Regions from separate parts of the Homo sapiens genome. Here region 1 is linked to region 2. Evidence: fine-mapped expression QTL. A gene starts in region 2. The other region holds a variant in brackets. All regions are shown on one strand. Distances are between the middles of the regions.

Region 1 (12,697 bases), 24 kb after region 2:
TCCCTTCTTCTCTCTCTCTCTCTTTTTTTTTTTGTTTGTTTTGAGACAGGATCTGGCTCTGTCACTCAGGCTGGAGTACAGTGGCACAAGTCTCAGTCTCTTGTGCTGAAGCAATCCTCCAACCTCAGCCTCCCTCTCAAGTAGCTGGGACCGCAGGTGCACACCACCACACCTGGCTAATTTTTAATTTTTTCTTGTAAAGATGAGGTCTCACTATGTTGCCCACACTGGTCCTTCAGCTCCTGGACTCAAGCGATCCTCCTGCCTCAGCCTCCGAAAATGCTGGGATTACAAGTAGGAGCCATTGTACCCAGTCCTTTTGAAGTTTCTTAACCCCTATTCTATAGTTAACTGATCCTGATGCTTTGAGCACTGCGAATAAGCGCTCAGTAATTTACTCATGAAAACAGTTATAGCACCAACCATGTGTAAGGAATTGTGCTGGGCAGGGGACACTTCATTGGGGCTTTTTGATTTCTGAGTTTGTGGGAAGTACAAAATGACTTAGCACAAATAATATTCAATTATTAAATTTCAAGTTCCTGTTCTGCTCCATTGCCCTTTTCATGTGGGTCTCTGTGTGCCTTCCCAAACCATTTATTTTGGTTTTAGATATTGCTTGAAATTGATGATAGGGAAAGACATATGGAATGCAGATGCTAAATTCTGTGTAACAGTTGGTCAAAGAAAAGGTGAGAATCTTAGAGTGGGGAGGATGATTTTTTAAAAAAAGAAAAGGTTAGAAACTACATAACAGAGGAAGCATAATAATGAGAAATGCTGACCCAAGGAAAGGGAGAAAAAGCACTATTCCTTGCTTTTGCTACATAAACAGTTGGTATATGAGAAAAGTGAGAAAGAGTAAGATCATTATGTGTAGAAAAGGGTGACATTAGAAATGATTATGGAGGAAGGAGGGTCTGAGGAGTCATAAACATGGGTTATATAAGGAGTCAAGGCATTTGTTCTTTCCCCACAATAGTCTCTGGGTTGACCCTTGAAAATTAAGGGTAATTGTGCCTTGTCTCTAAATCCTGAAAACCTCCCTCCCTGCCACCCCACTTTTTTTTTTTTTTTGAGACAGGGTCTTGCTTTGTTGCCCAGGCTGGAGTGTAGTGACAAGATCATAGCTCACTGCAGCCTCAACTTCTAGTGGTCAAGCAATCCTCCCACCTTACCCTCCTGAATAGCTGGGACTACAGGTGTGTGCCACCACGCCTGGCTAATTAAAAAAAGAAAGGTTTATCCTCCAAGACATCTGAATAAAATTGTTATAGAGACGATGACTCACTATGTTGCTTCCTTTTTTTTATTTAGGTAAAATCGACATATTACTAAACATTTTAAAGTGGACAGTTAGTGCATTTAGTGCATTCACAATGCTGTGCAGCCATCAGCATGCTCTAGTTTCACCTCCCCTTTCATTTATTAGGAAAGCTTGTATTCAAATCTTCTTTAATCCCATAATATGCCCATTCATCCAAACTCCTGTTCCATTATTCCATCATTTCTGCTAGGACCCAGTCCCCAAAATGTCCATTATTCTAACCCCTGTCACTCTCATGCTAGATATTGTCCTTCATGAAACCAGATGAGGGGCCAGAACAACTTTTCCTGGTTTATACCTGTGAGAAGAGAAGTGATAGAGAATGTAGTCAAAATGATTCATTTCATAACTTCTCAGATGTAGCTGATGTGGACCCAAGCAGATTCCTTGGATATTGAGAGCTGAATATGGGTATTGACCAGAATAGATTCTACCATTCAGCTGGACCAGGCCATTCTTCCCAGATTGTCAGTCACCACTCATACTATGAGTAATCCTATATAGGAACCACACAGCTTCTGCCCAAACTATGCCACTAAAACCGCTCTCTCGAAGATCAAATACTATCTCTCTCTCTCTCTCTCTCTCTCTCTCTCCCTCTCTCAGAGATGGGAGTAGTGGCTCTCACCAATATCAGTAATATCTATCTATCTATCTATCTATCTATCTATCTATCTATCTATCTATCCATCCATCCATCCATCCATGTATCTAATCTATCTACCTTAGAGATGGGGGTCTCAATATGTTGCCCAGGCTGGATTTGAACTCCTGGGCTCAAGCAATCCTCCTGCCTCAGCCTCCTGAGAAGCTGGGACTATAAGCACATGCCATCATGGACCAGCTAGCAGTGACCTTTCCATAAGCCCCTGAGGTATGGGGATTGTTTGCTACACAAGTTAGCTAAACCTAACTATTCATTTGAATAGGCAACGGACAGTGTCTGCCAAATTTCCCTATGCAAGCTTTCTCTGCTAAGGATACTCAAAAGGAGTCTTAAGAGAAAAATCTTGGTAATACCTAAGGCTTGCAACCTGAGGAAAGGGATGAGCAGGGAGGCTGAAGGGCTGATATTCACATACAAGCATTCAGTAATAAATCACTGTGGGCCTAATGCTCAGATCTTTTTTTTTTGGTCGGGGGGACAGAGTCTTGCTCTGTTGCCCAGGCTGGAGTGCAGTGGCATGATCTTGGCTCACTGAAACCTCCGCCTCCCGGGTTCAAGCAATTCTCTGCCTCAGCCTCCCAAGTAGCTGGGATTACAGGCACCTGCCACCGCGCCTGGCTAATTTTTGTATTTTTAGTAGAGATGGGGTTTCACCATCTTGGCCAGGCTGGTCTTGAGCTCCTGACCTTGCAATCTACCCACCTTGGCCTCCCAAAGTGCTGGGATTACAGGCGTGAGCCACCACGCCCAGCCATGAAGAACATTTTATTACCCCTTACCAGAAAAAGTCCTGTATTCTTCAAAAATATTAAAGACAAAGAAAAGCTGAGGAACTGTGCCAGATTAAAGAACACTAAAGAGACATGACAATTAAATGTAATATATGATCCTAAACTGGATCTTGTGCTGGAAAATAAAAAAAATGCTAAGAATGATGTTATTTGATCAACTGACAACATTTGGAACATGGATGGTAAAGTATTACAGCAATGTTAAATTTCCTGGAGTTGTTAATTGTATGTATTTTGTTTACATAAGAGAATGTACTTATTAGGATATTCAAGTATTATGTGGTAAAGGAGGATGATGCATGCGATTTACTTTTAACTGCTTGGAAAAAAAAATATGTACGTGGGCTGGGCACGGTGGCTCACACCTATAATCTTAGCACTTTGGGAGGCTGAGGTGGGTGGATTGCCTGAGTTCAGGAGTTCAAGACCAGCCTGGGTAACACGGTGAAACCCCGTCTCTACTAAAATACAAAAAAATTAGTCAGGTGTGACAGCGGGCACCTGTAATCCCAGCTACTCGGGAGGCTGAGACAGGAGAATCGCTTAAACCCAGGAGGTGGAGGTTGCAGTGAGCCGAGATCATGCCACTGCACTCCAGCCTAGGTGACAGAGTGAGACTCTGTCTAAAAAAAAAAAAAAAAAAAAAAAAAAAAAAGGCATGTATGTGTGTAATATAACTCTATCTATCTATAACTGCAAATGATAAAGCAAAAGGGGCAAGATGTTAATAATCTGGGTCCTCTTTTTGTCACTCTTGCAACATATCTGTATGTTTAACATTATTTCCAAATAAAAAGTATTCTGGGGTCTGGATTTTTAAAAAATCATTGAGGTTCTCCTCCTGTTGGCTCAAGGGACTTTTCTGCTTTTTATCGTTTACTGCAGACCTTCACTCTAATCTGGTTTTCCCAGTTTCACAACCTGTTGGCTTCTATTTAAATTCTCTTTTTTTTCCTAGCCCCTAGGATTCACTATTTGTTTGAATAGTTTGCCTAGCTTTTTGGTTCAGCTTCTCTCAAGACACAGCCTTCTCATCAGCTTCTCCTATTTGGCCTTAAGCACTGCCGCTCTTGGGCAAATGACTTCTTGCCTGCAACACTGAATCTAGGCTGTAGGCCCTAGAAGGATGTCATACCCTGAATGAAACTTGAATGCTTCCGATTGCTAACTGCTCCACCTCCCTCTCCAGTTGCTCTGACTTGGTTTAGGAGGATGTATTTCACATATCTGCCCCTTCTCGCCTTCTTTCCTGTGTAATCAAACCCTCATCATAGTTTTCTGATTAGGATCCCTTTCTCCAGTCTTTACCCACTCCAGCTAGCCCTCTTCCTTCACCATCACTAGTTCTCTCTCACATTACCTGTCTGAATAAACTTCTTTTTTGAGACAGAGTCTGGCTCTGTTTGCCCAGCCTAGACTGCAGTGGCACGATCTCGGCTCACTGCAACCTCTGCCTCCCGGATTCAAGCGATTCTCCTGCCTCAGCCTCCCGAGTAGCTGGGATTACAAGCATATGCCACCATATCTGGCTAATTTTTGTATTTGTAGTAGAGATGGGGTTTCACTGTGTTGGCCAGGCTGGTCTTGAACTCCTGACCTCCAGTGATCTGCCACCTTGGCTTCCCAAAGTGCTGGGATTACAGGCATGAGCCACTGTGCCTGGCTACCTGTGCGAATAAACTTCTAACAGCTCTACATTGCCTTTCAAAATCTGACTCAATTTACCTTACTACTTCCAAATCGTGCAACTTCTCTGCTTAACTGTAAGCTCCTTCAGGGCACAGACCATGCCTTTTCTTCTGTGTATCCTTAATTTCTTTTTTTTTTATTTCTTTCTTTCTTTCTTTTTTTTTTTTTTGAGACAGAGTCTCACTGTCGCCCAGGCTGGAGTGCAATGGTGCAATCTCGGCTCATGGTAGCCTTCTTCTCCTGGGTTCCAGCGGTTCTTCTGCTTAAGCCTCCAGGGTAGCTGGGATTACAGGCATGCGCCACTACACTTGGCTAATGTTTGTATTTTTAGTAGAGACGGGGTTTCACCATGTTGGCCAGGCTGGTCTCGAACTCCTGACCTCAGGTGATTCACCTGCCTCAGCCTCCCGAAGTGCTGGGATTACAGGCATGAGCCACCACACCCAGCCCCTTAATTTCTTATATAGTGCCTAGCACACAGAAGATGCTCTATAAATAGTTACTGAATGGACAAATGACTAAACTTTGAAACTTCTTTGACCTTACTATGCTCAAATATCACTTCTGATGTTCTTCTCCGACTCTCTCACTTATCTTATATATGTCTGCACACGTTTTTTCCTCATTAGACTGTAAGGTCCCTGAGGGAAAAGACCATGCTTTATTCACCTGTCTCATTCATACCTGACCCAGTGTCTAGAAGAGTGTATAGCACAGAGCAGGCACACAAGCAGTTTGCTGGATGAATGAGTGAATGATACTAAAGAGGAGAAAATACAGACTTTAAGAAGCTCTCCGTATAGTGAGAAAGACTGAGGACCTAAGAGCAATGAAAATAGAAGTTAACAAGTATAAATAAAGAAGGTACAGGTTAATTTAAGTAATCAGATGATGATGCAGAATTCAAATAAAATAGGAGTCAATCAGCAAAGGTTCCCGAAAGGGTGAATTCTGAGAGATATTTGAAAAGAGGAAAGGGACATAACTTGAGAGAGCAGGAGTTTAGGAACATGTCAGAGAGTTAGGTTGAACCAAGGCATGATAAACATGTTTGAAGCTTACATTCTGAGCAGGATCTGTTCTACCCAGACCACAGGTTTCTGCCTTTTTTTCTGGCTCATCAAGCAGGCATGTTTACCCACTCTTTTTATCTTCATGTTTCCCAGGTCAGCCCAATGTGAGGACTTTAAGTAGTAGAAGGAAGTTTCTGTGAAAATATGCAAACAAAACTGCCTTGTGGGATCGAACATTTTTGGTAACCCTAGTTCTCTAGGGAAATAAACTTCCCTGTTCCAGATAAAATGGAACTGCTCCCCGTGTTGTTAAGCCAGAGAGAAAGCCAAATGACTTCCCTTAAAAGGTACTTCAGCGCATTTTACACAAATCATAGTTTTCTGTGTGTGTTATGGGGATCCAAGGAAATCAAAGATGTTAATGAGTGAGATTTGAGAAACAAAACTTGATAGTAGAATTTTGTCTTAGCCACAACTGCCCTTCTCCTCACAGAGTATATGCAAATACCGATGGTGACGGACAGTCACTTTCTAGAGCTCAGATCACTGCTGCCTCCAGCACTTGTGGGATGGAAAAAATGAAGAAATTACAGTTGCCCTAAAAATGTCCCCCACTTCAGGAACCTGAATATTTTACACAGCAGGAGATACATCGGAAGTCCTACAGAATCTCTTGACTTTGGGAGATGCAACTGCTTTTCTATTAGGATAACCTAATTTTCTGTGTCCATTTTCTCAGAATGTTGTGCCCAACGCGTTCTGTTTCCTAAATACCCAGCCTTCCTTCTGGTAGAGGCAAGAAAATTATGCTAGCATTCGCTCACTGCATGTTTTGAGCGTTTGAGTTCAGAGTACAGCTATTCTCTCTCCTCGTAATGTAAACACAGGTTCCCACGGCGGCAATGGGAGACTCCCCTAAGGGGCTCTTGACGTACAGGGAGACTTCCAGATATGGTACACAGATGTCACATTGCTAGAACGTCTCTAGACGGCAACGAAACATTAAAGCCTAACCTGAGGTAATCCCTCACCGGCAGTGAAGCTCCTCTGCTAGGCACTGTCGTCCCGTACACTGCCCAAGCTCTGGGGGTGTCACACTAAACTGTGGTGATGTCACACTAGCTGGGATGACATTTTACAGTTGGATCCCGTACCACCGCCAGGCACCTTTAAATCACCGCAGAGTCTGCAGTGCGGAGGGGGCGGGAAGTCCAGGCCCCGCACTCGATCCACGCTGGCTCCCTACGGAGGCCCACCTACTCGAGGCCCACCGACTCCTACTGCAATCAGTACTATGCGATCGTCCTAGAGAGTCCATTCAGCTGCACTTCCGCCTCAGTAGGTGTCATGGCGCGGGGCGGGTGAATAGTTCCGGCGAGGCGGGGCCGGCCGGGTTGAGGGACGGCCGCTCGGCATTCCGTTCGTCGGGTCTGGCGACAACGGCGGCTGCGGAGCAAGGGGCCCGGCGGTAGCCCCGGACGGCAGCAGGAGGCCGAGGCGGGAG[C/A]GCGCGGGGCTGAGGCGGCGGCGGCGGCGGCGGGAAGGGGCTGGGTGGTGGAGCGGGAGGGAGGCTGAGGAGGCTCCCCCTGCGGGACGGGCGCGGGGACGGCTCCGGGGGGCGGGGGCCGGGGCCCGGGCCGGCTCGCGCGGGGGGTATGATGACCCGGCTGCGGGGCCCCAGATCTCGTCTCCTCCGCCGCCTCCTCACGGCAGCCCCAGCTCGCGGCTGAGAACCAGACACACCGGCGGTGAGTGGGGACGGGCAGGAGGGGTCCTCGGCGGGGAGCGACTTCCCCTCAGCTCCCTGAGGCGGGGCCGGGCCGGCCGCCGGCTCTCCTGGAGCGCCCAGCCTGCCGGGGGCGCCTTCCTCAAAGGGCCCCTGCCTGGGACCGGGCGCCGCGTCTTGCGGCCCGGCCGCTCACTGCCGCTGAGGGGATTGCCTTCCCAGGAAGGTGGGGAGGCTCCGGGCTGGTTTTCGGGGCAACTCCCCCTGCCTCCTGCCACTTCTCGCCTGGGCGTGTTGTCCTTAAGTGACAGGGGACCGCCTTGCGTCTCCTCACTCGGCCGGTTTTTTCCCCGGCTGTCGTGGCAGGTTCCCAGTGTGTGGCTTGTGCGTGTGTACTTCACAGCTCCGCTTATCACCATGGTTTTGGGTTATTTGTGCTGTTTGGGACCAGGAAGCCGTGCCTGGAGAGGACGACAGTGGGGTGGGTGTGGAAGCTTTTCTGTCGTCTCCGCTGATGTTCTGTAGTCGTTAGGCTTGTAATTCGTAATGACGGTGGAGACTACGTGAGACCAGCCCACCTAATGTATATCTGTACAAGGGAGATCTAGAGGTCTGGCCCAAAGGGAAACTTTTGCTGCCACCACTTTCAAAGCTTTCGTTAAAAAAACAAAAGGGAGGGGGAAGGTGGAGAAACAACCAAAATTCTGGTAAGGCCCACACTGTTCACAGGTCTGTGGGGAAGAGTCCCCTTTTTGTGCTTAGCAACCAAGACGTGGAGTTCCGTCTCCAGGAGCGTTGGTCTAACCTCCAGTTTGTTGTGGTGACGAGCTGTGAGCAATGGCCTGTGTTTATGCTGGGCGAGCTTTCTTTCCTACTTGGGGAGGGGGGTTCAGGATGGGAGGATGCGGGTAGGGAAGAGGGGGGGAAAACCCCCAAGCTCCAGTAAGTCTTTTCTTTACTTAATCACTGATTCTGTTGTAGGTAGACTCATTTAGAGGCAGTCCTAGATGCTCTTTCTTGTCTATTAGTGACACTTTGGGAATTCTCAGTAATTGCATCAACATAATACTTTCAGCTATAGACTCTCTGTCCCAATCTGTCCTTTATCTTGTTTCTTAGTAACTGGTGAAAACAGCAGTGTGGCTTCCCGCTCTTGATGAAATAGGGTTAAATTAAGTGGCTGATGCCCTCAGCAAACCTACAATTTTCCTTTTGTTTGTGTAAAGCTATTTTTGATCTCTGGTCTGTGGGTTTTTTTTTTTTTTTTGTAAGATTATAGAGAATGCAAACTATTACTAGCTTTTTTCATATGGAAGCCTAAAGCTTTCTATAAAACATTTTAAAATCTAACAAATCATTTGACCTAATTTTCATTATTCAGCTGGTGATTTTGGATCTTTACATGTAATTATCTCAGGGTTCTGTGTTATAATACTGTTATGATGAAGGGTGGCATTGACTTTAAGATACTGTTCCTGGCTTGAAAGATATTTTAGTAAAGTACTTGCGGTTGGAACTGGAGGCAGCCAAGCCAGTAAAGTATCTTAGAATAAAATGGTGAATGAGATCTTATAAATATACTGGCTCTGGTTGGCAAGTAGAACTTTTGCTGGTGATACCTTCATGAATAGTTTATCTCTCGACACTGTAGTTTTGTGGTTTTTTGAGCAAGTTCGTTGGTAACTTGAGACTTCAAACCAAACCAGAACTTCCTTCTAAAAGAAAAAAAAAGAAGAGATAATCTCAAAGTTCACAATTCTTTGGAAAATAAACTTCTTTCATTCTGTGCTTTTGTTTTTATAAGCACAGCTCCATCAATGATTTGTTGGTACAAATCAGTGAGTCATACCGGCCTTGTAAAGTTCTTACACTTGGAACTTGTGCAGCTTGTTAGTTATATATTGTAACTGGTCTTGTAATTTGAAGTAATTTTGCAAACATGAGCTGCTTGATCTGCCACCTGCATGAGTGTATAACAGCAGTCTGTATTTTTTAGGTCTTTTTAAAAAAAATTTACTATTATTCCTCCCGTTATCTTCCCTTCCTCTCCCTTTGTGCCATTCTGAACACAAGTCATCAAGATTATTTTCCTTTAAGTACCACTTCAACAATCACTGGTTTGTCTTTTGGTTCCTTTTGTTTTTGTTCCTGATCTTCCCTTTAGTTGTTGGAACCCAGCTCCTAAATGCCTAATATATTCCTGTAGTGCATAATTTGGCACTTGAAAAATTTACATCCTGTTTTCATATTTTTCTTTCTTTTTCATGTGTTATATCATTTCAGCAACATTTTAAGTTTTTTGAAGGTAAGGAAACTTACATTTCTTTTAGATTCTTTAAGGGTACCTGGTACAGTGCTTTCCCAGAGTGCTTAAGGAAAAAGAATGAGAAGACCTTTGCCAGCATTGCTACTCATTAGCGCTGGGTAAAACTCGTTTGGCCTTTTTGGATCTGTTTTTTTTTTTTTTTTTTTTTATTTGAGACAAGATCTCGCCCTGTCGCCCAGGTCGGAGTGCCGTGGTGGGTTCAGGCTGGAGTGCAGTGGTGGGTTCAAGTGATTCTCATACCTCTGCCTCCTAAGTAGCTAGGACTACAGGCACTACAGGCACGCACCACCATGCCTGGCTAATATTTGTATTTTTAGTAGAGATAGGGTTTTGCCATGTTGGCCAGGCTGGTCTCAGACTCCTGACCTCAAGTGATCCACCTGCCTCGGCCTCCCAAAGTGCTGAGATTACAGGCGTGAGCCACCATGCCTGGCCTGGATCGCCTTTTTCTCATCTCGGAATTAGGGGGTTTTAGAATCTTTAAGGTCCCTTTTATCTGTAAGAGTTCCAGTACTTTTTTGCTAGTGTCTTCTGCTCCAGTTAAATATATCTCCTTACTCTACACGGTTTTTTATTTTTCCACATCCTTTGGCATACTAGCATAGCAAAAGTCATCTCATTCTTCTGAAAGAGCCTCCTCCATCTTCCATTCTCCAAACTGCTGTTGCCTTACTTAAGTCCCGTTTTCCTTCAGCCTTTGCTGGCATATTGTTTATGTTTCATATTGATCTCTGCTTTGTTAATTTTAACTTTTTCTTATCCTGGAAACTCCTCAAGGTATAGTTTTCTTAATTCTAAGCTTTATAGACCTATAGACTGTTATGTGCAGGTACTAAAATGTAGTACCTTTTTACTAAACACAAAGCACTTACTTTTCTTTTGTTCTGTTGCCGTAGTCATTCCAAATAAATCTAAGTGAACTATTGATTTTGATACAAAGCAACAGCCTCTGCCACACTGAAGAAGTGAGCTTTAAGCAGAGACTAGAAGGGTAAGTAAAAGTTAGGAAAAGAAAAGCCTAAGGGGGAAAATGAAGTTCAGAGAGGAAACATGTTGAAGGAACTAGGGCCAGAGAAGGCAAGGTCTATTGTGGGAACCCAGAGAGACTTGGTAGTATTGGAAGAGAAAGTGCCTGGGGAAAAGCGCAGATGAAACAAGGCTGTGCAAGTAATCGTGGTCCAGATCTTGCAAGGCCTGGTAATCCAAATTAGGAATTTTGGTGTTTGTCCTAAGGTTTTAAGTGGGGGATAGGTACACTTTTTTTTTTTCAGATGTGCATTTTTAAAAGCTTCAGTTGAGAGGTGAATAATGAATTGGGAGAGGGGAGCTTAGAAAAGGGGCTTGAGGCCAGCATCGTGGCTCACACCTGTAATCCCAGCACTTTTGGAGGCTGAGGTAGGTGGATCACTTTAGGAGTCTGAGACCAGCCTGAGCAACATGGTGAAACCCTGTCTCTACAAAAAATACAAAAAAATTAGCTGGGCGTGGTGGCATGTACTGGTAGTCCCAGTTACTCGGGAGGCTGAGGTAGGAGGGTGGATTGAGCCCTGGAGGTCCAGGCTGCAGTGAACGAACCATGATCGTGTACTGCACTCCGGTCTGGGTGACAGAGTCTCAAATAAAGGGGGGAAGTTGAGAGTACAATTTGGAGGAAACCAGTTAAGCTGTTTAAGTATGGGATTGTGCAGTAGGGGTGGAGAAAACTTAGGAGAGTAGAGAGAGATTTAGGTGTTCTGTTGGGAAGAATTTTCTTCCCAAACTTGTCTCACTTTGTTTTTACAGAAGATGTACTCTTATCATCTGTAAAAAATATGTATCAGAGTATGTGATAGACAATATGTATACCTGTGTTCATGTCATCTGAGGATAAGTGCTGGAGCAAGAAATCAATATATAGTACAGTTTTTAGGTCATTTGGCTAACCAGCTGTTAAATTGTATGAAAGAGGCAAAGATAACATTGAGCAAAAGCAACAGGAATTTATTACTGGTGTGTCAGGAAAAAGGTTACTGAGGGGTAAGGACAAATCAATGGAAAATGATTACCTGGGTTGTCTTATCCAACTGTTCCATTCAGGGTTATAATATTTGGATCCTTTTAATAAGATTATTTGCCTATAGTGCTTATAGTGTGGAGCACCCAGTAAATAATGTTAAATGGATGTGACCATGCCAGGGAGTGGGAAAGTTGTTAATCTGTTTTTGAAAGCCTTGGATTCTAGCTATTATCTTTTAGCAATAAGTACAAGTACCAATGATCTTTTGCCCATCATTGCTACTTTGGTATTAATGAACTGGGCAAATTTGTCATTATATTGAGATGGTTAAGTCCTTGGAAAGTCAGATTTGAAATGTAAAGACTTCATTTATTGCTGGAGTCAAGAGGCGCAGCATTTTCAGGAAGTCAAAAATAACTTTTTATGCCAGGTACGGTGGCTCATGCCTGTAATCTCAATATCGTGGGAGGCCAAGGCAGGAGGAGGATTGCTTTAGAGCAGGAGTTTGACACCAGCCTGGGTGACATAGTAAGACCTCATCTCTGAAAAAAAAAAAAAAAAAAAAAAAAAATTAGCCAACTGTGGCATGTGCCTGTAGAAATTAGCCAAGCGTCCTGGTGTGTGCCTGTAGTCCTAGCTACTTGGATGGCTGAAGCAGAGGATTGCTTGAGCCCAGGATTTCGAGGATACAGTGAGCTGTGATCACACCACTGCATTTCAGCCTCACTGACAGTGGTGAGAACCTGTCTCAAAAAAAAAAAAAAAAAAAGAATCAGCTGTTTTTTTTTTTTAAACCTTTATTTTAGGTTCAGGGGTACATGTGCTGGTTTGTTATATAGGTAATCTATATGTCACAGGGGTTTGGTGTACAGATATTTTGTCGTCCAGGTAATAAGCATAGTGCCTGACATTTATTTTTTCTGATCCTCTCCCTTCTCCCACCCTCCACCCTGAAGTAGGCCCCAGTGTCTGTGGTTGGCCTCTTTGTGTCCATGTGTTCTCGTTCTTTAGCTCCCACTTTTAAGTGAGAACATGCAGTACTTGGTTTTCTGTTCTGTGTTTGTTTAGGATAGTGGCCCTCCAGCTTCATCCATGTTGCCTGTTGCTGCAAAGGACATGGTCTTGTTCTTTTTTATGGCTGCATAGTATTCCATGGTGTATATGT
Region 2 (10,299 bases):
CCTCACTGCGGGGTTGGTAGCGTAGCAGAAAGTTCAATACTTCAGCCTGGCCCCATTGGTCCAGTTTTGACATTCTATCCAAAAAACAAAACAAAAGAGCTATTTTAGCAACAAAATTAGGACCATTTCCATGCCACTGCCATATGACCAGGTGGTTGTTCATCATAGCAAAGGGAGAATTCTTAAAAATAGGCTGTGCCATAATTAAGTCACTTTTCATGTACTATTTAAAGTTTACACAAAAAAGGCTTAAAATTCCAAGATGAGTTGTTAATACAAATGCACACTCCTCTAAGACCAAAGACATGATCAGCATACACTGGGTCCAGGTTCCTTACATTTTAAGACACTATAAATGGCTTAGTTTGGGGGACATGACTAGAGAAGGGTAGAACCTATTCCCACAGTATATTTCTATTTCCCTATATCAATAAGGGAAAGTAAGGCAAATAAAAGAAATTCTCTCAGTGGAATGTGAGGGAGTTAATAGTGGTTAACTGGCCGGGCGCAGTGGCTCACGTCTGTAATCCCAGCACTTTGGGAGGCTGAGGCGGGCGGATCACCTGAGGTCAGAAGTTTGGGACCAGCCTGACCAACATGGTGAAACCCTGTCTCTACTAAAAATACAAAATTAGCCGGGCATGGTGGCGCATGCCTATAATCCCAGCTACTCGGGAGGCTGAGGCAGGAGAATTGCTTGAACCCAGGAGGCGGAGGTTGCGGTAAGCCGAGATAGCGCCATTGCACTCCAGCTTAGACAACAAGAGCAAAACTCCGTCTCAAATAATAATAATAATAATGGTTAACTTTCTTTTCTACCCCACATAAGTTGTTCAATACTTTAATACATCAACAAGATCCCACAAGGTAGCAGATCTCATAATAAAAAGAGTGCTGAGGCATCCAAACCGATTTAAGAGATGGTGAGCAATGGGCTTATTGATGACAACGCCTCCTTCCTGTTTCAGAATTTCCTCTAGAGACCTCAAGCAGTTCACAACTACAATTGGATCCTGGTCACGCAGCAAACTGTATAATTCATTTACCAGGGCACCATCTATAAAAAAGAACAAAGTTCTTAGATAAAGAAGGAAAGCTTCAGAGTAACAAGGATGTAGCCAGAGTAATAGCTCCAGGTAGACAAAGTTGAACTTCTCTGCTACAAAAATGACAAAGGCCACACTAAAGTGCAAGGCAAAAAAAAAACTGCCATGTCCAGACTGTTCTAAGCAGCTAATACAAAGGATCTCATTGGGGCCCCAGAGAAAGGACTTCTCATCTCCAGAAGATACCAAGCCCTGCATCCTACTTAAAGAGATATGTACAGAACTGGGGCCACATTATTATTTTCTACCAAAGCCACACAATCTTTTTTAAAGTTATACATAATGGAGGCACATTGACCATGATGGATTACACTGAACTTACCTACTTCAGAGTCTCCATGAAGATTATGCATCTTGGCACATCCAAGGACTGCCACTCTCCTGACATATGAAGCCTTATCCCGCAGACCATTGAGAATAGGCTGTTGTATATACTCCTGCACACCAGGCATCCTAAGCAACACATCCTGGAGTTAGCCAGATTCTGAAATACTAATTTTGACATACCTCAGCCCCTGTTCACCTAACAGATGGTTTAGTAGATGCTGCACCCATCAGATCATGAAGAATTGCAGAAAGCCTCTATCAAGCTTAAAAAGCCATAATTTGACTTTTCTGTTTTTTTCTTGTTTTTTTCAAGATGGGGTCTCACTTTGTCACCCAGTGGCCCGATCATAGCTCACTGCTGCCTTGAATTCCCGGGCCCAAGCCATCCTCCTGCCTCAGCCTTCCTAGTAGCTGAGACTACAGGTGCGTGTCACCATGCCCATTTAATTTTTTGTAGATATAGGCTCTCACCATCTTGCCCAGCTGGTCTCAAATTCCTGGGCTCAAGCAATCTTCCTGTCTAAGCCTCCCAAAGTGCTGGGTCTACAGGCATGAGCCACTGTGCCCAGCCTAATTTGACTTTTCATTTGGAATAATGATGCACAGGCAGCAAAAAAAGATATACACATAATTGTTTAGAGATATTTAACCAAAACTGAGGACTATTTTACTTAGAGTGAGAATCAAAAACTCCCTCTAATAAAATTATATGATACAGGTTATTAAGCCAAAGCAGTGGCTGAAAATCTGAGTTCAGGGTACAATAATGTTTTCCCCAGTATTAAGGAGCTCAAATAAATTATCCTCTTTAAAAACCTACCCTGTGATCACTTGAATTCATCAGCCATTTAGGACCAGACAGAGAAGAGGGTACTCACCTGAGGCTACACATGCTCCGTAACGCCAGCCCTCGCACCATTGGATTGGGGTCTGAGCAGTCTTTGCACAGCGTATTGATGGCCAGGAGAGCCAGATCTGGTTTCAGGGGAGCATATGTGCACATGTACAGATAAACCAACTTCTTCTGGACAATATCTACAGTGGCACTGGCCTTCACCATTTCCATAAAAACACCAGACATGTCCAAGCCTTGAGTCATGTACCTGAACAACGCACATGACAGAAGGAAGTAAAATGCAAAATCCCCAACTTACAATGGAGGGAGTTTTACTTACATATCTCCTGATTACCCAACTAGATTGTGATCTCTTAGAGGGTAGCAGCCAGGATTACCTTGTCTATTATATCACACAGTACTTCATACCATAGGCCTACAATAAACATTATTCTTCTATTCATTCAACAAACACTTATTATTATTTTTGAGACAGAGTCTTGCTCTGTTACCCAGGCTAGAGTGCAGTGGCACAATCTCGGCTCATTATAAGCTCCGCTTCCCAGGTTCAAGCGATTCTCCTGCCTCAGCCTCCCGAGTAGCTGGGACTACAGGTGCGTGCCACCACGCCCAGCTAATTTTTGTATTTTTAGTAGAGACGGGGTTTCTCCATGTTGGCCAGGCTGGTCTCGAACTCCTGACTGCAGGTGATCCACCCGCCTTGGCCTCCCAAAGTGCTGGGATTACCAGCGTGAGCCACCGCACCCAGCCTCAACAAACACTTATTGAATCCCTAGTACTTTGGTGAAATTCAACTTTTACATCCAGGGACATGCTCTTGGGACATAATCTTGAAGAAGGTGTGGTCTCAAACCTCTAGGAACTTCAAATCTATTAATGAGCCAGATGAGAATACCGTTAATTACAGTATGATAGATAAGTACTTAAACAGAAGTATTGTACAAGGTGTAGAGGGGATTCAGAGGTCTGACACTGGCAGGAAGTCAGAAAATGTTTCTTCACAGAGGAAGTAATACTTTAGCTGAATGAGCAGGAGCTCACTAGGCAGATGTAATAGCAAGGTAAAGATACATGCTATGAGGTAAGTAGACATGAGCAGGAGCAGCACACATTTTTTTAAGAGTCTGTAGGTAGTTGAATTAACAGCTTGTTCCTTGGGTGCTGTGATAAGTTTGGACTTTATTGTTTCTCAGACTGGTCTCCTACTGGAACCAACTGAAATGTTTATTAAAAATACAGATTCCTGGGTTCCCTCCCACCCTACTGAAATCAGAATCAGTCCCTGGACTGGATGACAAAAAGCACCCCAAGGGATTTTTATGCATAGTAAAGTTTGTGAACCATAGCTGTAGGCAAGAGTTATGTGTTCAGGTATGTATAATGGAAAAATTCTGTCTCAAATGAGGCAAAGTGGCCTACTAGTAAGCTGCTGCAATTGCTTTATTGATGAAGGCCTGGACCAGAACAACAATGCTAATAAACAAGAGAGGATGGATATTTAGAATTATGAATTCAAACCATCTGACATAAGAAGTGAGAGATCAGGTGTCCTCAAGGTTGGCTCCCACGCATAGTCGGCTGCTGGTGGCATTCATCAACACAAATGTAAGCTGAACAGGTTTGAGGAAGACGGAAGAATGTCCGGGCTATTTCGGACATACTTTTGATAAACCACGCACGTGGAAATGCCAAGCAGGCAGTGGGATACGTGGGTCTGAAGCTAAAAAAGGAAGTCTGTACTAGCTATATTATAGATCCAAGAGTCACCAGTAATTGCTCAAGCCCGTGATATGGAGGAAACTACCCAGCTGAGTAAAAGATGCTGCAGAGGGGAGACTGACATGGTACTCCAAAGCAGCAGGACGAAGACCGAACCATATAACTGCCACGTGTGAAAGCTAATTCACCCTTTCAGAGAGACTGGGGCTAGTGAGCCCTGATGGGGATTGCAAAGGGAGCAGTTAGCACGCGAAGGGAGGTAGGTGATACCTAATCACTCGCTGGATGACATTCCGGTAGCGCAGCCTATCAGCTTGAATGTGAGGATTGCACAGAGCCTTCTTCAGCTCCTTCACCACGTCCTCGGAGCCAAGGTACGGCATCTTCCTAAGAGTCACAGGGCAGCTCCCACAGCTCCCACGGTAACTCGAGGGCTCCTTCTCGTCCTGATGTGGGAGCCTGAGTAAAGGAAATATGAGTCAGTGAAAATACAAAAGGCGAGATCTCGCCTCAGGCTCGGCTTCCGTAGGGCCGGCACGCTGGCCCTGACACACTTCCACGCCCTCCGCGACACCGCGAGCCCCACCCTAGGCTCTTCAGGCCCTACCGTCGGCCGGCAGGCCGTTCGCCCCGCCCACAGATCGCTCCCGCTACTTCTAGGTCCTCCGCCGGATTTCCAGCGCCGCGTCCGACTGACCGCAGACCCCTCCCTCTCCAGTTCCAGCCTTAATTCCCCCTCCACGCCGTTCTCATCGCGGATAGGCCCAATCTTGCTTTCTGCGGAAGTCCCGCCCCCTTGTCAAGAGACCAAACAGAAGACCGCTGCCGGTCTCCCCGCGAGCGAGCGCTAAGCGTAGTCCCGACTCCGACCTTAGGATGCCCTTCCCCCAACCTCTCACTCTCCAGGCGCAGCTGCGCGGCTCCCTCTGGTGGAGCTGCGGCGGGCAATCGGAAATCGGCTACTTTGGCCTGTCTCCTCCCTGCAGCGCGCGCTTTGAGTGCCCGGCTCGGCCTCCGCTCCCGCGCGGTTGGGAGTGTCCAGCGCCCTCCGCGATTTGGGCTCCAGCGGGCAGGGTGACTTCCTTTTTCTGCCCACTCTGGTAACTTATTGCTCTGCTGGGCTCTTTCCCTTAGGGTCTCTGGCCCTGTTCTTGCCCCAGCATGACTTTTATCGGGACGCCGTTGTGGAAGCCTCACGCAGGAGCCCTGCCCCCGTGGAGAAGATCCCACTGGTGACTCCAACCCTACCACCATGAATGGGGTCCTGATCCCCCATACGCCCATCGCAGTGGACTTCTGGAGCCTGCGCCGGGCTGGCACCGCACGTCTCTTCTTCTTGTCTCACATGCACTCGGACCACACCGTGGGCCTGTCTAGCACCTGGGCCCGGCCCCTCTACTGCTCCCCAATTACAGCCCACCTCTTGCATCGTCACCTACAGGTATGGGGCTGGAGTCGGTCTCCGAGAGCTGGTCCAGGCATCTGGGTTGGGACTTCAACCTGTCATTCTTGGAGTCATAGAATGGGGGCCACGAAAACTGATTTGGAAGTTGTTTGAACCCAAAAATGCATCTTTAACCCAGAATAGGAACGTGTTTTCGAAGTGACCAACTTGAGATAGTTAGCCATAAGTTGAGGAGATATTTTAATCCAGCCAAGGAAACTATTCCTACCTTTATAAGTAAGCTAGGCCGATGTTTCCCAAACTTGCCTTTTTTTTTTTTTTTTTTTTTTTTTTTTGAGACGGAGTCTCGCTCTGTTGCCCAGGCTGGAGTGCAGTGGCGCAATCTCGGCTCACTGCAGCCTCCGCCTCCCGGGTTCAAGCGATTCTCCTGTCTCGGCCTCCTGAGTAGCTGAGATTACAGGCGCACGCCACCACGCCCAGCTAATTTTTTGTATTTTTTGTGGAGACGGGGTTTCACCATGTTGGCCAGGCTGTTCTCTAACTCCTGACCTTAAGTGATCCGCCCGCCTCAGCCTCCCCAAGTGCTGGGATTACAAGCGTGAGCCACCACGCCCCGCCTAAACTTGCCTCATCTTAAGAATCCACCTAATGTGCTGGGTGGTTCTCCAGCTCTCTCCCCACCCCACCCTTAAGTCTCCAAGAGATTAAGATCAGGAGTAAGTTTGGGAATTGCTGACTAGACTGTTTGCTGAACTCTTTTTTTTTTTTTGAGATGGAGTCTCGCTCTGTCGCCCAGGCTGGAGTGCAGTGGCGCAAACTCGGCTCACTGCAAGCTCCGCCTCCCGGGTTCACGCCATTCTCCTGCCTCAGCCTCCCGAGTAGCTGGGACTACAGGCGCCCGCCACCACGCCTGGCTAATTTTTTTTGTATTTTTTAGTAGAGACGGGGTTTCACCGTGTTAGCCAGGATGGTCTCGATCTCCTGACCTCGTGATCCACCCGCCTCAGCCTCCCAAAGTGCTGGGATTACAGGCGTGAGCCACCACGCCCGGCCAGCTGAACTCTTAAATTGTACAAAGGGTGGGATGGGAAGTGGAAGGAGGAAGGGCAGATTGCTTGGGAATCCCCATTACAGCTTCTGCTCCCGGTGGCTCAGGATTTGGTCAGCTTTCCTGATTCATGTAAGGGATAGTCCCTGACCCGGGGAGGTAACGGAGAGGAGTCAGTGGTCACTGGGATGACTAACTGTTTTCTCAGGTATCTAAGCAATGGATCCAAGCCCTGGAGGTTGGTGAGAGCCATGTATTACCCCTAGATGAAATTGGACAAGAGACCATGACCGTAACCCTCCTCGATGCCAATCACTGTCCTGGTTCTGTCATGTTTCTCTTTGAAGGATATTTTGGAACCATCCTCTACACAGGTGGGCCTCTCAAGGAATCCCAGTGACTTCTCCAGACTAGATGTTTTTTTTTTTTTTTTTTTTTTTTTTTTTTAATGTATAGACTGGGGCCTCGCAGTGTTGCCGAGGCTGGTCTCAAACTCCTGACCTCAAGCAATCCTCCCGCTTCAGCCTCCACAGTAGCTAGGATTATTGGCACAAGCCACCACACCTGGCAGACTTTTCTTGAGCAGCCTTAACTCAATAGAAGTCTGGAGGCGCTGGAGGCCTTCTAACTTCATCACATATGAGCATAGTGACCCCATCTCAACTGATTTCCCACTGTTTTTTTTTCCTTCTTCTTTTTGAGACGGAGTTTCACTCTTGTCACCCAGGCTGGAGTGCAGTGGCGTGATTGTGGCTCACTGCAACCTCCGCCTTCTGGGTTCAAGTGATTCTCTTGCCTCAGCCTCCCAAGTAGCTGGGATGACAGGCGCCTGCCACCACGCCCAGCTAATTTTCGTATTTACTATTAGTAGAGACGGGGTTTCACCATGTTGGCCAGGCTGGTCTCGAACTCCTGACCTCAGGTGATCCACCTGGCTCGGCCCCCCAAAGTGCTGGGATTACAGGTGTGAGCCACTGCGCCTGGCCGATTTCCCACTCTTTAAGGGTCCGAACCTTGTGAAGAGTAATTGAAAAATAGGAGTAGGATGGAGACATTACAACAAAGAAACCATGCAGCTATACTGCCTAGTTCAGTGCCAGGCTACATAATAGTTTTTTCACAGACTAGTAAGCAAACGCCTGTCTATTGTTGGAGGTAGGAGAGGCTTGTCTTCTATTCTTTTGTCTCTGACCTTCTGCCCCCATGTACATATTCCTCCAGGTGATTTTCGATACACACCATCCATGCTAAAGGAGCCAGCCCTGACACTGGGGAAACAGATCCATACTTTATACCTAGACAACACCAATTGCAATCCAGCCCTGGTTCTTCCTTCCCGACAAGAAGCTGCCCACCAGATTGTCCAGCTCATTCGAAAACACCCACAACATAACATAAAGATTGGTGAGTTGTTTCCTTTCAGTTTCCTGTCACCTGTAGATAGTGAACTAGATTCTTTAAGGATTCTCACATCTTTCAGATCTTTGTGCAGTTCTCACTTTCTCCTACACTGACCACCTTATTTAAAATTGCAACCTGGCTAGGTGTGGTGGTTCATGCCTATAATCCCAGCACTTTGGGAGGCCAAGATGGGAGGGTCATTTGAGCCCAGGCGTTTGAGACCAGCTTGGGCAACATGGCAAGACCCTGTCTCTACAAAAAATTTAAAAATCAGTTGGGCACGATGGTGCGTGCCTGTGGTCCCAGCTACACAGGGGACTGAGACAGGAGGATTGCCTGGGTCCAGTAGGAGGTCAAGGTTGCAGTGAGCCATGTAAGTGCCATTGCACTCCAGCCTGGATGACAGAGCAAGACCCTGTCTCAATAAATGAATGAATGAATGAAATAAGTAAAACTGCAACCTGCCCACCATCCCCATTCCCAACTCCTGATCATCCATACCAATTCATTTTTTTCATTTTTTTATAGCACTCATATACTATATATATTTTTAAATATGCTATTGCTTACTTGTTGTCTATCATGCACTTCCTCTGGCCCATGCACATACGCGTGCACACACACACACACACAAGCATAAACTCCTTAAGAGCATCACTGGAAATGGGAAGAGACTTTGTGTGTTTGTGGAACAGAGAAGCAGCAGTCAGTATGACAGGCACACAGTGGGCAAGGAGGCTGAAAAGGCAAGAGGGGCTGAAGTGCTGTTAAGCCATTTTGGACTTGATCCTAAACCCAACCAAGAGCTATTGAAGGATTTTAAGTAGAAGAGGGACAATATGCACTCATCACCTTGCAATATATTCTATAATTTATGTATTTATTGGACTTTTTATTGTCTGATTCCCCCTGCTAGAATGTGAATTCCACTATGGCAGTCTCTGTTTTATTATGGGTGTATCACAAATGCCTACACTAATGCCTGACACAGAAGCATTCAATATGAATGAATGAAATTTATCAGAACATAGATATTTAAGTGAGCGTTGTGCTTTAAATTAAGTATACTGAAAAAACAGGTTTGTGCTTGTTGTACTGATTATAAATAGTATAAAACATTGTTGAGGACTCTTTCTTGGAGTTGCCATTTGGAATAGTTTATGAAAATACATTTTTGTTTTATAAAATAAATAAATGTAATAGATTTGGTTCTAAATTACTTTTTTGGTTGTTTCCAAATTTGTGAGTCTACAAAAGGACAAAGACTTGCCACCATTATAAATATTTGAAAAGGACATGTCTCAACTCTGAAAGGAGTTTCAAAATGAGACTAAACAAAGGCATTGAAAAAATTATATAACTTCCAGGGTGACTACCAAATCGATTGAGAAATATCCTCTACTCTCAGGATTGCTTAGCTACTTATAAAGACCTAACCATTCTTAATATTTTAATGCAGAATTTTCTCAAAAAAGCAAAGCTGGCTAGGAGGATGCTATAGTAAGCCTTAATTAATTTTGCAAATATGTAATAAGCCTCTACCCACTAAGTACCAAGTATCCAATAGGCAGTGGGGATATAAAGATGAATAAAATATAGTCTCTGACTTGGAGGGCTCACAGTCTGGTAGGGAAGGACCTGTGGGGAGGTGGAAGTGGGAATATATATAGAGAGAAGAAAAATCCGCTCCATTTGTGCCCAAGGAGTGAGATTTTGAACCATAATCAGGAATAAAGTGGATATAAATAATATATACTTCTTTTTATGGCGTTCACAATCTGGTTGTGGATTTGAAACTTCTTCAGAAAAAGTCTGAGAACAGCTATTAAACAACATCTCCCATATCTGTTACCATAACCATTTCCCAAATTAATGTCTCCATTTCTTTCTCTGTAAGTACTATTTGGGCCCTTCAATTGAAACTTCCACTCCAGCTTCTTCTCATCCTGGCAGTCAAATAATATTATTACCATATTTTTCTTTTTAAAGCCCTGCTCTGAGCATATTATTCTTATGATTAGAATTAGCCATTTTCCTGCTTCACACTCAGTGGCTCCCCTTCACTTACACAATGAAGTCCAAGCTTCTTAGCGGTACATATAAGACGCTCTATTATATGGCCCTTGCTTGCCTCTCTGGTATCATTTCTTATCAATTCCTTTTTTACTTTAGTAACAGCAAACTGACCCCTCTTAAAATGTTTTCCACTATACCCTTTCTACCCTTTCCTTGCCAGGTTAACCTTGCCCATCCTTTAAGATTTAGCCTAACGTTCCCTAACTCCATCACCTGTTAGATACAATACTGTATACTTTTTTTGTTTTTTTTTAAGAGACAGGGTCTCACTCTGTTGCCCAGGCTGGAGGGTAGTGGCATGATCACAGCTCACTGCAGCCTGGACCTCCCGGACTCAAGTGATCCTCCCGCGTCAGCTTCC

What was found.
Region 1: its variant is fine-mapped to the expression of DCLRE1B in whole blood (INTERVAL, PIP 0.94).

The regions. Positions count from the first base shown.
Region 1 is chr1:113,922,708-113,935,404 of GRCh38, forward strand. HIPK1 (homeodomain interacting protein kinase 1) reads left to right here and starts at 6,617. Exons shown (of 16, transcript NM_198268.3): 1 at 6,617-6,825. HIPK1-AS1 (HIPK1 antisense RNA 1) reads right to left here and starts at 6,818. Exons shown (of 3, transcript NR_110726.1): 1 at 6,655-6,818; 2 at 5,537-5,681; 3 at 1,294-1,625. RefSeq lists an enhancer at 6,528-6,847 and silencers at 6,968-7,017, 7,038-7,347. The variant C/A (reference allele first, on the strand shown) is at 6,992.
Region 2 is chr1:113,900,327-113,910,625 of GRCh38, forward strand. It overlaps DCLRE1B (DNA cross-link repair 1B), which reads left to right and starts at 5,000. Exons shown (of 4, transcript NM_022836.4): 1 at 5,000-5,449; 2 at 6,670-6,835; 3 at 7,683-7,865. The coding sequence starts at 5,261. It overlaps AP4B1 (adaptor related protein complex 4 subunit beta 1), which reads right to left and starts at 4,473. Exons shown (of 10, transcript NM_001253852.3): 1 at 4,279-4,473; 2 at 2,312-2,536; 3 at 1,429-1,559; 4 at 910-1,057; 5 at 1-74. The coding sequence starts at 4,391. It overlaps AP4B1-AS1 (AP4B1 antisense RNA 1), which reads left to right. Exons shown (of 5, transcript NR_125965.1): 5 at 1-911. RefSeq lists enhancers at 4,109-4,168, 4,249-4,808, 4,839-4,888.